Linked DNA regions of Homo sapiens: region 2 is linked to region 1. A link means that fine-mapping ties the variant in region 1 to the expression of a gene that starts in the linked region. Tissue or cell type: whole blood. Region 1 holds a variant in brackets; the other region holds the start of a gene. All regions are shown on one strand. Distances are from middle to middle.

Evidence for each region. PIP is the estimated chance that this variant, and not a neighbour inherited with it, causes the effect.
Region 2: it holds the start of NT5C, and the variant in region 1 is fine-mapped to the expression of NT5C in whole blood (INTERVAL, PIP above 0.99).

The regions. Positions count from the first base shown.
Region 1 is chr17:75,103,975-75,106,730 of GRCh38, reverse strand. SLC16A5 (solute carrier family 16 member 5) reads right to left here. Exons shown (of 7, transcript NM_004695.4): 6 at 2,551-2,756; 7 at 569-851. The coding sequence ends at 698. Among named protein-coding and RNA genes, the nearest start is that of ARMC7, 4.6 kb to the left of the region's middle. RefSeq lists enhancers at 1,041-1,541, 1,542-2,042. The variant C/T (reference allele first, on the strand shown) is at 1,209.
Region 2 is chr17:75,130,253-75,132,880 of GRCh38, reverse strand. It overlaps NT5C (5', 3'-nucleotidase, cytosolic), which reads left to right and starts at 1,139. Exons shown (of 5, transcript NM_014595.3): 1 at 1,139-1,347; 2 at 1,600-1,700; 3 at 1,776-1,836; 4 at 2,014-2,128; 5 at 2,239-2,628. The coding sequence starts at 1,174. The coding sequence ends at 2,393. It overlaps ARMC7 (armadillo repeat containing 7), which reads right to left. Exons shown (of 3, transcript NM_024585.4): 3 at 2,609-2,628. RefSeq lists silencers at 977-1,546, 1,916-2,120 and an enhancer at 2,157-2,246.

The DNA of each region.
Region 1 (2,756 bases):
TAGAGCTGGGGTTTTGCCATGTTGGCCAGGCTGGTCTTGAACTCCTGACCTCTAGTGACCCACCCATCTTGGCCTCTCAAAGTGCTGGGATTACAGGCGTGAGCCACCACACCCAGCCTTTTTTTTTTTTTTTTTTTTAAAAAAAAGACAGGGTCTTGCTGTGTTGCCCAGGCTGGCCTCAAACTCCCAGGTTTGAGTGATCCTCCCACCTCAACCTCCCGAGTAGCTGGGATTACATGTGCGCACTGCCATCTCCAGCTGATATCTTTTTTCTTTAAATGTTTTCAGGAAGTGGGCTCATTACGGGATGCACACAAAACCTGGTGGATACTAGCACCAAAAGCACCTATCTACCAGCCCCACCTCCCTCCTTTTCCATTCAACTGAGATGGAGCAGACAGGATTTGGCAAAGTCCATGCAAGCACTCTCCCTTCAGAGCATGTGGTATTGATGGCAGCCAAGTGTAAGACTGGGTGGGGAGCCAGAAGGAAATGGAGTCGTCAGGATGCTCACCGAGTCAGACTTTTCAACCGGAAGAGACTAGCTCATCCAAACCAACCTCCTACGTTTTCTTTTTTAAAATTAAATTTTATTATTTTGCTCTAACAAAGTAACCTCCTACTTTTTCAAGGCTCAGAGGTGGTCAACAATTTGCCCAACTCACATGGCAGATAGTGGCGGAGTCAAACAGGGCACTCAGGTAGGGCTATTCCAGCCCAGAGCCGTTTGCTTGGCCTGCAGTACCGCCTTTGGCCATAAGAGCCACTCATGGCTGGTCCTGGAGGAGGCAGGACATCCCCAAAGATGCTTATTGACGCCAGCTGGACGTGGCTGGCGGGAAGACTGGCACCTGTTCATGAAAATAAAATCTCCTGATAAGGTTTTCTTGCGGAGCCTGGTTGAGCCTGAATCAACAAACAACATCCTGAACCTGAGCACCCCTTGCTGAGCTAGGAGGAAAGGAAGGGTGAGGGGAAACGTACTCCAGCTCTGTTTGTCAGCTTCATTAGTTCACAGAGTTTATGACCTGCTGCAGGGAACATTTTTGTGTGTAATTCAAACACATTCTGTTTTATCATTCCCTCGGTACCCTGCTGGGACAAGAATGGGCTGATGACAGCCAGCCCCTGGGTGGTGACTTCAGGGAAAGGCACCAGCAAGATGTGTGTGTGGGGAGCTTGGACCGCCAGTCACAGGCACAGGTGTA[C/T]GGGGAGCAGGGGTGAGTCCAGCCAGCCACTTACCCCAGGGTTGACACCAATAACACGGCAGGGAAAAGGGGGGCCTCTGGAGGACAGGAATGGGGAGTAAAAGAGCTTCCCTTGCAAAAGCAGCCCCATTTTCACAACAGTCTTCGGGCTGCCTGGCAAGCCTTCCTCTCCCGTCAGTCAAATGTCTGGCTTCCCCCACCTGGCACTAATCCTCCCCGCCAAGGAGACAGGGTGGGGAAAGGAAGGAGGAAGCCCCTTGATAGAGCAGGTCCTGCTGAGACTGCAGGGGGGCCCTCAGACTTCACCGATTCTAGGATCCAAGCCAGGGGCCCCCCTCCCGTTCTCTGCACAGGCGCCAGGATGGGCGCGCCACTCAACTCCTCAGCCTGGACCTCTGCACTGCCCAGTGCGAGGCCCAATGACCTTCACTGGGGGCAGCTGCACCACCAGCCTTGGCTGCCCTACAGGTGAGGGCTGGGTCACTTGGGAAGAGCAGGGCAGGAGGAACCTAGAGGAAGGTGAGCTCTTCAGAACGGTATGGAGGCCAGAGAAAGACAAAGAGAAATGATAGAGGCATCCAGGCTGGACGAGAAGGTCCAGTGCATTGAGCTGTAGGAGCAGCAACACACAGCCAGCTGCGCTGAGCCGGCTGGGACAAACCTGAGCAGGGCTCAGACCCAGGTTCCTGGGCCCCGAGTACCCTGGTACCCAAGGAAAAAAGTCCGGAGGGCCTGCTCCTGGATTCCGCTAGTTGTTAGAAAAGGGTTCCTCTGGCTGGGCACGGTGGCTCACGCCTGTAATCCCAGCACTTTGGGAGGCTGAGGTGGGCAGATCACCTGAGGTCGGAAGTTGGAGACCAGCCTGACCAACATAGAGAAACCCCATCTCTACTAAAAGACAAAATTAGCCGGGAGTGGTGGCGCATGCCTGTAATCTCAGCTACTTGGGGGGCAGAGGCAGGAGAATCGCTTGAACTTGGGGGGCAGAGGCAGGAGAATCCCTTGAACTTGGGAGGCAGAGGTTGCAGTGAGCCGAGATGGTGCCACTGCACTCCAGCCTGGGCAACAAGAGTGAAACTCCGCCTCAAAAAAAAAAAAAAAAAAAAAGAGTTTCTCAGGGCATCTTCAGAGGCCAGCCTCCAAAGTCCCAGCTCCTGGCAGAGTCCCAGCTTGCAGAGCCTGGACAGCCCGGGCTTCCTGGGCTACTCTTCACCCAAGCCCCTGGTGAAGGAGCTAGAGGTCCCCCTCCTGGGCTGGGCTGAGACAGTGTTCACTCAGTGATCCCAGGACTCAGACACTGGTCACACAGATGAACCCTGGGTCTTAGACGCTGGTTACATACATGATCTCAGGGGACCGTTGCTTCCCAGGACCGTCTTTGGCTTCCAAGAAAAGATCCCGCTCCAGGGCATCCGCCGCGACAGCCTGCTTGCCTTGCTCCTTCTTCTGCAGGGCGTAGAAGCTGCCACCCATGAAGAGGGCAGCTGAGATGAGGAAGAAGCTGGACATGTAGAAAACATAGCTAAAGTTGTTGGTGGCGTCCAGGAG
Region 2 (2,628 bases), 26 kb before region 1:
AGCATGTGCCACCACGCTAATTTTGTATTTTTAGTAGCGACAGGATTTCTCCATGTTGGTCAGGCTGGTCTTGAACTCCCGACCTCAGATGATCCGCCCGCCACGGCCTCCCAAAGTGCTGGGATTATAGGCGTGAGCCACCGCACCTGGCCCTGTTCAGCATTTTCTAGACGGGAGTAGGTAAGCGATGTCAGTTCCACATAAAGTCCTGAGGACAGTCCTGATTACCTGTGCTTGATCAAAATCATCTTTCCGGGGGAAACCACACTTGAAGCTCCCATGTTTCAAGCCAACTCTAGTGTGAATTAGTCTCTTAACGAGCTAGACTTACACAAACCAGTTAACAGATTCATTTCACTTTGTAGTCCTCGAGGGATTGTTCCTGCTCCACTGCACAGACGAAAGCAATCCACTGAGACCACGGTACTGCGGTAATAAGACTTTGGCCAGGTGCGGTGGCTCAAGCCTATAATCCCAACACTTTGGGAGGCCAAGGCAGGCAGATCACTTGAGGTCAGGAGTTTGAAACCAGCCTGACCAACATGGCGAAACCCCGTCTCTACTAAAACTACAAAAATTAGCCAGGCGTGGTGGCGGGTGCCTGTAATCCCAGCTACTCGGGAGGCTGAAGCAAGAGAATCGGTTGAACCCGGGAAGCGGAGGCTGCAGTGAGCCGAGATCGCGCCGCCACTGCGCCGCAGCCTGGGCGACAGAGCCAGACTCCGTCTCAAAATAAAAAAAAAAAAAAAGAAAAAAAGAAAAAAAATGTGGAGCTAGCCCCACGGGTTTAGGACCCTTGACTCCTCGTTAGATGCTTCCCAGTATTTCAGAGCATCCCTTTGTTGGGCCCCCGGAAGGTCGGTCCCCTACTAGTAACGTGGGGTGAACGGGGGTACGTCTGCCGTAAAGTGGGAGGCGGCTGATGGGGACAAAGGCTGGGTCCCGAAGAAGCGCAGGGTCAGAAAAGTGCCCCCCAAAGCCGTCCCTGCACCCGAACCCTAGGATGGCCTCGCGCAACCGCAGGGCCGTCGGCACTGGTTTACGACCTGGGCGGGGCGGCCCGGACACTCTATGCAAATCAGCCCGGCGGACTCCGGAAGCAGCGCTCCCTCCGCTTCCGGCCGAGCCCGCGCCCCCCAGACCCCGAGAGCTCGCAGCTCCGGCCCGGCGGCGATGGCGCGGAGCGTGCGCGTGCTGGTGGACATGGACGGCGTCCTGGCCGACTTCGAGGCCGGCCTCCTGCGGGGCTTCCGCCGCCGCTTCCCTGAGGAGCCGCACGTGCCGCTGGAGCAACGCCGCGGCTTCCTGGCCCGCGAGCAGTACCGCGCCCTGCGGCCCGACCTGGCGGTAGGGGGCGCAGGGTCCCCACCCGGGCAGGGCCCGCTCGCTCCGTTCCGGGGGTCTCCCCCTTCTCTGTGAAGGGCGCAGAGCTCTCACCCTGGAACCCGCGGGCAGCGCACCCTGGGGAGGAGCCTTTGGGCGCGTGCCCCTGACCGACGCCCCCTCCGCCCCTCTGAGCTCGGGCCCGGAGCCCCCAGGAGCCTCCCTGCGGGTCCTCGCGGGAACGGGAAGCCGGGACCCAGAACTCTTGTCTTTCAGGATAAAGTGGCCAGTGTGTACGAAGCCCCGGGCTTTTTCCTGGACCTGGAGCCCATCCCGGGAGCCTTGGACGCTGTGCGGGAGATGAACGACCTACCGGAGTAAGGAGAGAGGGGGGCGGGCGGAGTCCTGGGCGGGCTCCTGGCTCCCGGCGGTAACCGCGTCCTTCTCCGCAGCACGCAGGTCTTCATCTGCACCAGCCCCCTGCTGAAGTACCACCACTGTGTGGGTGAGAAGGTGTGGCTGCCCCGCCCCTACTCCGCACGTGGAGCTGCCTAAATCCTGATTTTAAAAAGAAACCACCAGAAACCCAGAAGGTGGGGGTGGGGGGCTCTCAAGGGCTTAGAGCCAAGTCCCTATCCCTGAATTCCGGCTTCCATCAGGCCCTACTCACAGACTGTGTTTTCTACACAGTACCGCTGGGTGGAGCAGCACCTGGGGCCCCAGTTCGTAGAACGAATTATCCTGACAAGGGACAAGACGGTGGTCTTGGGGGACCTGCTCATTGATGACAAGGACACAGTTCGAGGTTGGACCCGTTATCCTTGGCAGCCTCCAGGCCTCTGGCCTGCCCGGATTAGGGAGAGGGAGTAATAATACCCATGACAGATGGCAGCGCGCTGTCTTTCACTGTCCTAGGCCAGGAGGAGACCCCAAGCTGGGAGCACATCTTGTTCACCTGCTGCCACAATCGGCACCTGGTCCTGCCCCCGACAAGGAGACGGCTGCTCTCCTGGAGTGACAACTGGAGGGAGATCTTAGATAGCAAGCGCGGAGCTGCGCAGCGGGAATGAGCGGGGATGCCGCGGGCAGCAGCTGGAGCTAAAGGAAGGGCAGGCCCACAGGGGCCACCGCAGAGCCGAGTCGGGGCGGCATCGTGCTGGTGCCTCTGGCCCCGTGGAGTGGAGCAGGCAGATACCGTTAAGCGCTGTGCTACCGGGCCCCAGGCCCAGCCACCCGGTACCTCCCGAGAGGCTGTCCCTGGACCCTGGCTGGCATGGAAATACAGTGGGAAAACCAGTCGGGACC